Linked DNA regions of Homo sapiens: region 2 is linked to region 1. The links come from fine-mapping of genetic effects on gene expression. A gene starts in region 1. The other region holds a variant in brackets. All regions are shown on one strand. Distances are between the middles of the regions.

Region 1 (5,376 bases):
CGAGGCAGGTGGATCATGAGGTCAGGGGTTCAAGACCAGCCTGACCAACATGCTGAAAACCCGTCTCTACTAAAAATACAAAAATTAGCTGGGCATGGTGGCGGGCGCCTGTAATCCCAGCTACTCAGGAGGCTGAGGCAGGAGAATTGCTTGAACCTGAGAGGCGGAGGTTGCAGTGAGCCGAGATCGCACCACTACACTCCAGCCTGGGGGACAGAGTGAGACTTCATCTAAAAAAAAAAAAAAATTTGTAGGCCGGGCACGGTGGCTCATGCCTGTAATCCCAGCACTTTGGGAGGTCAAGGCGGGCAGATCACGTGGTCAGGAGTTCAAGACCACCCTGGCCAATATGGTGAAACCCCGTCTCTACTGAAAATACAAAAATTGGTGGGGCATGGTGACACTTGCTTGCAGTCCCAGCTACTCGGGAGGCTGAGGCAGGAGAATTGCTTGAACCCAGGAGGCAGAGAATGCAGTGAGCCAAGATCGAGCCACTGCACTCCAGCCTGGGCAACAGAGCAAGACTCCATCTCAAAAAAAAAAAAAAAAAGAATTGCTGCGATAGTAAATAATGTACGTAATAAAGCATTCAGAACAAAATCTAATATGTAGGAGGAACACCATAAACGTTACTACTCAAGATAGCCCAGCTGTGATAGCTCTGTCTCTCTAGCCAACGTTTTTCCACCTTACACCACACTAAAAATTCCATCATATTTGCAACATTTCTTATGTATATATATCGTAAGCATTCTTTACTTGCCTACTTCATATTCAGAGGGTTTTGTGTGTGGTAAAATATACATAAAACTTGCCATTTTTAACTAGTTTAAAATGTATAGGGGGCCAGGTGTGGTGGCTCAGGCCTGTAATCCCAGTACTTTGGGAGGCCAAGGCGGGCATCACTTGAGGTGAGGAGTTCGAGAGCAGCCTGGCCAACATGGTGAAACCCGGTCTCTACTAAAAATACAAAAATTAGCCGGGCATGGTGGCATGCCTATAGTCCCAGCTACTCGGGAGGCTGAGGCAGGAGAACTGGTTGAACCTGGGAGGTGGAGGTTGCAGTGAGCCGAGATCACACCACTTCCTTCCAGCCTGGGCGACAGAGCGAGACTCCGTCTCAAAAAAAAAAAAAAAAAAAAAGTCCAGGTGCGCTGGCTCATGCCTGTAATCTCAGCACTTTGGAGGCCGAGGCGGGTGGATTGCTTGAGGTCAGGAGTTCGAGACCAGCCTGGCCAAGATGGTGAAACCCCGTCTTGCTAAAAATACAAAAATTAGCCAGGCACGGTGGCGGGCGCCTGTAATCCCAGCTACTGGGGAGGCCGAGGCAGGAGAATCGCTTGAACCCGGGAGGCCGGGGTTGCAGTGAGCCGAGACCGCGCCATTCCACTCTAGCCTGGGTGACAGAGCAAAACTCCATCTCGAAAAAAAAAGAAAGAGTATAGGGCAGTGCTTTTAATTACATTCATTCACACTGTTGTGCAATGGAGTTTTTTATTTTTTATTTTTATTTATTTTTATCCGGGCCAGGCCTGGAGTTTTTAAACTTTTATCTGATTCGTCTAGGGGCACTTTCATCTTATTTACCTTCACATTTATCAAATTATTTCTTTCACAGGTGACAGAGCAGATTCAATTCCTTTTGATACTCCGTATTTCTCTATATGTATTTTTTTCATTCTGCATTCTTATTATTCCAACGTTTTACTTATTTATTTGGAGAGAGAGTTTCGCTCTGTCGACCAGGATGGAGTGCATCGGCGCGATCTCGGCTCACTGCAACCACCGCCTCCCAGGTTCAAACGATTCTCATGCTTCAGCCTCCCGAGTAGCTGGGACTGGAGGTGCGCGGCACCATGCCTGGCTTATGTTCTGTATTTTTTGTAGAGACGGGGTTTCGCCATGATGCCCAGGCCGGTCTCGAACTCCTGGCCTCAAGCGATCCGCCCCTCACGGCCTTCAGAGCTGCTGTAATCACAGGCGTGAGCCACCGCGTTCGACTCTTCCAAAAACTTTTTGGCCAGTTTATCTAAGGGCATATCCTACAGACTGAGTCCAGTGATTGCACAGAAGTAAACGTCCTCTGCAGCTACATACCTACAAACCTATTTCTGTAACGTACATTCCCCAGCAAGGTCCCGCGGGAAGGATCCACTACCGCGAGAGGCCTCCCAGCCAGGAAGGGGTGGGGCTCAATCTGCAGTAGATTCCCAGAAGCCTCAGTGAGTTTCTGATTCTCTAACTGCGCATGCTTCTGCGCACGCGCAATAGACATTCCAGGACTTCCGGGCACTTCGTAAGGTTTAAAAAGGATGCTTCGCGTTTTCTCTCTCCTTTTTGGAGACAGATTCGCAGTGGTCGCTTCTTCTCCTTGGTAAGTGTGATCCTTGGTAAGTGTGATCAGATGCTTGCCACCGGAGTTGTGGGTCTAATGCTATAGATCAGTAGCCGAGCTTCCCTAGGAAGATCATATAGTATTTTATTTATTTACTTTTTTTTTTTTTTTGAGACGGAGTCGGTTTGTCACTCAGGCTGGACTGCAGTGCTCGTTGCAACCTCCGCCTGCCGGGTTCAAGCGATTCTCGTGCCTCAGCCTCTCCAGCAGCTGGGATTACAGGCACGTGCCACCACGCCCGGCCAATTTTTGTATTCTTAGTGGAGACGGGGTTTCGCTATGTTGGTCAGGCTGGTTTTGAACTCCTGATTTCCGGTGATCCACCACCCTCGGCCTTCCAAAGTGCTGGGATTACAGGCGTGAGCCACCGCGCCTGGCCGGAAATCATGTAATTTAAAACTATATATGGGTGTCTTAGGCGGCATCGGTCCCAACTCTAAAGTACGCGTTAGACGGGCCTGGGCCAGAAGTGGGCCATGGAGACCTCGGGACCCGCAGGGCTGCCGCCCGACCCAGCGAGCCTCTGAAGGTGCACCGCCACCCCCACTGTTTATCTTACTGCCTCATAGTAGGCACATTGTCGTTCTCAATATAATTGCACACAGTTTTATTCTGGATCCTCATTTGCCTTTAAGAATTTTCTCAATTTTTCTTTTTATTTGATCGCACCACTGCAACCTCCGCCTGCTGGGCTCAAGCAATTCTCCTGCCGCAGCCTCCCGAGTAGCTGGGACTACAGGCGTGTACCACCGCGCCTGGCTTATTTTTGTATTTTTAGTAGAGACGGGATTTCACCATGTTGGCCAGGCTGGTCTCCAACGCCTGACCTTGTGGTCCGCCACGCCAGGCCGAAGATTTTCATAATTTGGAAGCATTGCGTTTCGTAATTATGCTTTCTCGTATTTTTGTGATTTGGGTCATTTTTATTTTTATATTTTTAGGATTACAGGCGTGAGCCATCGTGCCTGGCCGATTTGGGGGTAATTAACAAGTCCACGTGTTTCATTTGAATTTAGGATAGCTGGGCCTAATTGTTGTCTTTGCTTCTGCGGTACCTTCCACATAGTACTAACCGCCTATTGTAAAGTAATTAGAATAGCTGAATATGCATGTTACCAGTCTAGAAACCGATTTTTTTTTAACACCCCACTGTGGACAGGGTGGAAACTCGTTTGCTTTCTTGTTTAAGATCTGTAGTAACATGAATGGATGAAATTGTTTCCTATTGGATTCTGTAAATTTATGCGTTACACTGATTGTCCAACGTGGATACACCCGGGAGGTCACTCTCCCCGGGCTCTGTCCAAGTGGCGTAGGGGAGCATAGGGCTCTGCCCCATGATGTACAAGTCCCTTTCCACAACGTTGGAAATAAAGCTGGGCCTCGTGTCTGCGCCTGCATATTCCTACAGCTTCCCAGAGTCCTGTCGACAATTACTGGGGAGACAAACCATGCAGGAAACAGCCTTCTAGAGCACTGAATCTGGATTGAAGTCTTTTTTTTTTTTTTTTTTTTTGGAGATGGAGTCGCTCTGTTGCCCAGGCTGGAGTGCAGTGGCGCACTCCATTGCCTCTGCCTCCCGGGTTCAAGTGATTATGCTAAGTGATTCTCCTGCCTTGGCCTCCTGAGTAGCTGGGATTACAGGCCCCCGCCACCACGCCAGGCTAATTTTTGTATTTTTAGTAAAGACAGGGTTTCACCATGTTGGTCAGGCTGGTCTCAAACTCCTGACCTTGTGATCCGCCAGCCTCTGGCCTCCCAAAATGTTGGGATTACAGGCGTGAGCCACCACACCTGGCTGGATTGAAGTCTTAATACATGTTTAAGAAAAATTGGCTAAAAAGTAGCCAGGCATGATGATAGGTAGCTGGAGGAAGGAGAATCGCTGGAGCCCAGGAGTGACCTATACTCAAACCTATACTCCAGTGCCACTGTACTCCAACCCCAGGCGATAGCATGAGGCCCCTCGTTGAAAAAGTTTAGGGTTTTGCTGTACTAATAGATTAATATCTTGTTTTGCAGGATTTGTTAAGGATTCCAAGTAACTCTTATTTGGTGAGTAAATCTGCTAATTGTTTTTTGCTTATCAGCTCTTTGTCAATGATTTCTGTAATGGAAATAGGATTGAAGAGACTTTTATTCTAGTTGGTCAGGATTTACCTCTGAGGCATTTAATCATTCTCAGAGCAATAGCCAAATATCGACTTTGCTGCATTTTTGTAGGCATGTTGACATAACTTCAACATATGCTCTGTTCTGTAAAAATTGCTTTTTTTAGTCAGCTCATTAAAAGTGCAAAGTAGTAAAAGCTGCCCTAGTGAACTGTAGGAAGCCTAATTGGCTTTATCTACATGTGTAGCCTGAGCTGAGAAAGATACTAGCCCTTGAAAATACTGTGGGTGATTAGCAATATTGGATTTGTCGGTTACTCCAATTCCTCACTAATGAGCATTCCAACGTGGATACCCTGGGAGGTCACTCTCCCCAGGCTCTGTCCAAGTGGCATAGGGGAGCTTAGGGCTCTGCCCCATGATGTACAGTCCCTTTCCACAACGTTGAAGATGAAGCTGGGCCTCGTGTCTGCGCCTGCATATTCCTACAGCTTCCCAGAGTCCTGTGGACAATGACTGGGGAGACAAACCATGCAGGAAACATATCTAGTATACTAGATTTTAAGTTGAAGTAGGATCTTCAGGAGTCTAATCATTATTTCTTTTCTTTTAGGAGAGAAGACGATCTGCACTTCGCATTTTGGCATTGACATTTAATTTTAGGGTCCTTTATATAGAAGGGAGAGTAGGTAAACTGATTTTTTTTTTTAACAGGGAGGGTTTGACAATCTTTGGCAGACTTGGAGCAAAAGATTGAGGTGCATTTCATGCCTCCTTTTGAGAGTCTTGCTCTGTCGCCCAGGCTGTAGTGCAGTGGCGCAATCTTGGCTGCAACCTCAGCCTCCCAAGTAGCTGGGATTACAAACATAA
Region 2 (5,376 bases), 67 kb after region 1:
CTTATTGCATATGGTTGTTTTGAGGATTAAAAGAGTTAATTGGTGGCCGGGCTCCCAGCACTTTGGGAGGCTGAGGCAGGCGGATCACGAGGTCAGGAGATCGAGACCAGCCTGGCTAACATGGTGAAACCCTGTCTCTACTGAAAATACAAAAAATTAGCCAGGCGTGGTGGCACACACCTGTAGTCCCAGCTACTCAGGAGGCTGAGGCAGGAGAATCGCTTGAACCCGGGAGGCGCAGGTTGCAGTGAGCCGAGATTGCGCCCCTGTACTCCAGCCTAGGCAACAGAGCAAGACTCTGTCTCAAGAAAAAAAAAAGTTAATCGGTATAAAGCACTTAAAATAGTCTGTGGCCACATAGGCAGTGTTACGGAAATGTTTGCTTACACTTATTTTTGTTTCTGTCTTCATTTAAGGAGCCGTGTAAAGCCAGTGGAATATAGTCAGATGTACAGTTATAGCTACAACCAGTATTATCAGCAGTACCAGAACTACTATGCTCAGTGGGGCTATGACCAGAACACAGGCAGCTACAGCTACAGTTACCCCCAGTATGGCTATACCCAGAGCACCATGCAGGTAACCATGACTTGGCAAGACTGGTCCCCTTGGGTTGTGTTTCTCCTCTAGAAACAGGTCATTCTCTAGGATGGGATTGGTAAGGACAGGGGCTTGGGCTTCAGAAAAAATAGGGAAAGTTGAAGCAGTCCAGTTCCTCTTGTTAAAAATAAGCCATTGTGGGTAGGGCCCAGTGGCTCACACCTGTAATCCTAGCACTTTGAGAGGCCGAGGCAGGTAGATCACCTGAGGTCAGGAGTTCAAAACCAGCCTGGCCAACATGGTGAAACCCTGTATCTACTAAAAATACAAAAAATTAGCTGGGCATAGTGGCAGGCGCCTATAATCCCAGCTGCTCAGGAGACTGAGGCAGGAGAATCTCTTGAAACTGGGATGCGGGTGTTGCAGTGAGCCGAGATCACGCCACTACACTCTAGTCTGGGTGACAGAGCTAGACTCCACCTCAAAAAAAATAAAAAATATAAGCCACTGTGGTCCTGGGCCAGGATTTCACCATGCCCCTAACCCACATCTCTGGTCTCTTGGCAGACATATGAAGAAGTTGGAGATGATGCATTGGAAGGTAAGGGTTCATACGTTCCTTACTCTGTCAGCCATTATCAGGTGACTGCTGTGGCTGGCACTGTGCTCTCAGCTAGAGGGAAGACAAGATAAATTCTGCTCTGGAAGAACTTACATTCTGGTTAGAGAGCCAGACAAATATGTAATTATGGTAAGATGTGTCGGGTGTTACCCAGAGGTGTAAGTGTAGATCCCAGAGAGCCTGGGACAGGCAGCTCCAGGAGAGCCCATCACCCCCTTGACATGTGGCATTCTATCCTGGTATGTGGGCCTCTAACGATAATACTGTTACCCTTTTTTTGTGTGTGTGTGTGGTGGAGTTTCACTCTTGTTGGCCAGGCTGGAGTGCAATGGCATGATCTCAGTTCACCGCAACCTCCACCTGCCAGGTTCAAGCAATTCTCCTGCCTCAGCCTCCCGAGTAGCTGGGATTACGGGCATGCACCACCATGCCCAGCTAATTATTTTGTATTTTTAGTAGAGACAGGGTTTCTCCATGTTGGCTTGGCCGGTCTCAAACTCTCAGCCTTAGGTGATCCGCCCGCCTCAGCCTCCCAAAGTGCTGGGATTACAGGCATGAGCCACTGTGCCTGGCCGATAATACTGTTACCTTTTATTTGTTTGACTGTTTGTAAAATTCATTTTTTATTTATTTTATTTTTTTTCTGTTTTTCAATATATTTTAAAAGACATATTTTCCTGATTTTTAAGTCATCGTTAGGATGGAAAATTTGGAAAATATAGTAAAGTATGGGCCAGGCATGGTGGCTCACGCCTCTAATCCCAGCACTTTGGGAGGCCGAGGCAGGTGGATTGTGAGGTCAGGAAATCGAGACCATCCTGGCTAACACGGTGAAACCCCGTCTCTACTAAAAAATAGAAAAAATTAGCCGGGTGTGGTGATGGGCGCCTGTAGTCCCAGCTACTCGGGAGGCTGAGGCAGGAGAATGGCGTGAACCCGGGAGGCAGAGCTTGCAGTGAGCCGAGATCGCACCAATGGGCTCCAGCCTGGGAGACAGAGCGAGACTCCGTCTCAAAAAAAAAGAAAAAGAAAATATAGTAAAGTATAATGAAACTGAAAATCACCCCATATCCTATTACAACATAGTAATAGCCATTATTAATTTTTTCTTTTTCTTTTTTTTTTTTTTTTGAGGCAGAGTCTTGCTGTGTCACCCAGACTGGAATGCAGTGGCGCAATCTCATCTCACTGCAAGCCCGCCTCCCGGGTGCAAGTGATTCTCCTGCCTCAGCCTCCCGAAGAGCTGGGATTTCAGGCACATGCCACCACGCCCAGCTAATTTTTGTATTCTTAGTAGAGACGGGGTTTCACCATCTTGGCCAGGCTAGTCTCAAACTCGACCTCGTGATCCGCCTGCCTCGCCTCCCAAAGTGCTGGGATTACAGGGGTGAGCCACCGTGCCCAGCCCATTATTAATTTTTTAATTAAAAATATTTAAGCCTTGCACGGTGGCTCACCCCTGTAATCCCAGCCCTTTGGGAGGCCAAGGAGGGTGAATCATGAGGTTAAGAGATCGAGACCATCTTGGCCAACATGGTGAAACCCCGTCTCTACTAAAAATAAAAAAATTGCCAGGCGCGGTGGCTCACCCCTGTACTCCCAGCACTTTGGGAAGCCACGGCGGGAGGATCACCTAAGGTCGGAAGTTCTAGACCAGCCTGGCCAACATGGTGAAATTCTGCCGGTACTAAAAATAAAAAAATTAGCCAGGCGTGGTGTTGCGCGCCTATAATCTCACCTCCTCAGGAGGCTGAGGCAGGAGAATCACTTGAACCCGGGAGGCGGAAGTTGCAGTGAGTCGAGATCATACCACTGTACTCCAGCCTGGGCAACAGTGCAAGACTCTGTCTCAAAAAAAAAAAAAAATTATCCAGGCATGGTGGCCCATGCCTGTAATTCCAGCTCCTTGGGAGGCTGAAGCAGGAGACTCACTTGAACCCGGGAGATGGAGGTTTCGGTGAGCCAAGAATGCTCCATTGCAGTCCATCCTGGGTGACGAGAGTGAAACTCCGTCTCAAAAAAAAAAACAACAGTATTTACTGTCTAGGCACGGTGGCTAAAGCCTGTAAGGTCTTTGGAAGGCCAACGTGGGTTGGAGGATGGCTTGAGCCTAGAACTTTGAGACCAGCCTGGGCAACATAACGAGACCCCATCTCT[T/C]TTTTTTTTTTTTTTTTTGGGAGACGGAGTCTTGCTCTGTCACCCAGGCTGGAGTGCAGTGGTGCAGTCTCCAATCTCAGCTCATTGCAACCTCTGCCTCCCAGGTTCAAGTGATTCTCCTGCCTCAGCCTCCTGAGTAGCTGGGATTACAGGCATGCACCACCACGCTCGGCTAATTTTTGTATTTTTAGTAGAGACAGGGTTTCAGCATGTTGGCCAGGCTGGTTTCGAACTCCTTACCTCAAGTAATCCTCCCGCCTCAGCCTCCCAAAGTGCTTTGATTACAGGCATGAGCCACTGTGCCCGGCCAAGTATTTATAATTTTCACTGAATTTCACAGAAGAAAAAGGAAAGAAAAACTGAAAGCCAAGCATGGTGGCCTGTGGTTCCAGCTACTTGGGGGAGGCTGAGGCAGGAGGATTGCTTGGGCCCAGGAGGTTGAGGCTTCAGTGAGCTGTGACTACAGTTGTGCCCCACCATAACTGGCTATTTTTTTCTATTTTTTTGTAGAGGCAGGGTTTCACCATGTTGCCCAGGCTGGTCTTGAACTCCTAGGTTCAAGTGATCTGCCCATCTCGGCCTTCCAAAGTGCTGGCATTATAGGCATGAGCCACTGCTCCTGGCCAAAACTTTTTTTGAGGTACAAAAAGACTCAAAGTTTGAAATCTGTTTTGAGGATTCGTCTTCAAGAGAAAGTCATAGGGAAAATGTTTTCTGTCAAGAAAATGTTCGTTAAAGGAAACAGATCCCTTTTAGGGCATGAACAAACTTGTCTAGTTCATAACATTTTAAAGCACTTTCTTGTGTCCTCTCATGTGATGCCAACTGTAGTGACCTTGTGGGGTGGGCTGGGAAGGACACAGGAGCTCCATTTCACAGATGGGAAACTAGTGGCTCGGAAAGCCCAAGTGATCTGCTGAGGGTCACACAGTGTGGGGCAAAGTCAGGACAGTCCGGTCTTTTTATATTCAAGTCTCTAGTTGTTTCCCCCTGGGAGACATTGCCTTCTTTCTAGAGATAATTAGCCTCATAATATCTGTAGATAAGTCCTTAGAATTTTCCAATCTCTTTTTAATCCTTTTTTTGTTTTCTTTTTCTTGAGAGTCTTGCTCTGTCACCAGGCTGGAGTTCAGTGGCACGATCTCGACCCACTGTAACCTCTGCCTCACAGGTTCAAGCGATTCCCCTGCCTCATCCTCCTGAATAGCTGGGACTACAGATGCGCGCCACCACGCCCAGCTAATTTTTGTATTTTTAGTAAAGATGGGGTTTCACCATGTTGGCCATGATGGTCTCTATCTTTTGACCTCATGATCCGCCCGCCTCTGCCTCCCAATGCTGGGATTACAGGTGTGAACCACTGCGCCAGGCCCAATGTTTTTTTTTGTTTTTTTTTTTTTTGAGACGGTGTCTCACTCTTGTTGCCCAGGCTGGAGTGCAGTGGCGCGATCTCAGCTCACTGCAACCTCCGCCTCCCGGGTTCAAGTGATTCTTCTGCCTCAGCCTCCCGAGTAGCTGGGATTACAGGCATGCGCCATCATGCCCAGCTAATTTTCTTTTTTTCTTTTTTTGAGACGGAGTCTTGCTCTGTCGCCCAGGCTGGAGTGCAGTGGCGCAATCTCGCATGCCCAGCTAATTTTCTATTTCTATTTTTCTAACCCCATAAAGATGGGGTTTCTATGTTGGTCAGGCTGGTCTCAAACTTCTGACCTCAGGTGGTCCGCCCACCTTGGCCTCCCAAAGTGCTGGGATTACAGGCTTGAGCCACTGCGCCTGGCTTTTTTTTTTTTTTTTTTTTTTGAGATAGAGTCTTTGCTCTGTCGCCAGGCTGGAGTGCAGTGGTGCCATCTCTGTTCACTGCAACCTCTGCCTCCCGGGTTCAGGTGATTCTCCTGCCTCAGCCTCCCGAGTAGCTGGGACTACAGGCGTGCACTGCCATACCCGGCTAATTTTTTGTATTTGAGTAGAGACAGGGTTTCACCATGTTGCCCAGGATGGTCTCAATCCCTTGACCTTGTGATCTGCCCACCTCGGCCTCCCAAAGTGCTGGGTTTACA

Evidence for each region. PIP is the estimated chance that this variant, and not a neighbour inherited with it, causes the effect.
Region 2: its variant is fine-mapped to the expression of SNHG3 in whole blood (INTERVAL, PIP above 0.99).

Annotation. Positions count from the first base shown.
Region 1 is chr1:28,503,711-28,509,086 of GRCh38, forward strand. It overlaps SNHG3 (small nucleolar RNA host gene 3), which reads left to right and starts at 2,233. Exons shown (of 4, transcript NR_036473.1): 1 at 2,233-2,374; 2 at 2,510-2,617; 3 at 4,418-4,450; 4 at 5,120-5,376. RCC1 (regulator of chromosome condensation 1) reads left to right here and starts at 2,333. Exons shown (of 13, transcript NM_001381865.2): 1 at 2,333-2,374; 2 at 4,418-4,450; 3 at 5,120-5,195. SNORA73A (small nucleolar RNA, H/ACA box 73A) reads left to right here and starts at 3,655; the gene lies at 3,655-3,861. SNORA73B (small nucleolar RNA, H/ACA box 73B) reads left to right here and starts at 4,848; the gene lies at 4,848-5,052. RefSeq lists enhancers at 3,147-3,441, 3,633-4,398.
Region 2 is chr1:28,570,760-28,576,135 of GRCh38, forward strand. TRNAU1AP (tRNA selenocysteine 1 associated protein 1) reads left to right here. Exons shown (of 9, transcript NM_017846.5): 7 at 417-579; 8 at 1,108-1,141. Among named protein-coding and RNA genes, the nearest start is that of SNORD99, 5.4 kb to the right of the region's middle. The variant T/C (reference allele first, on the strand shown) is at 3,320.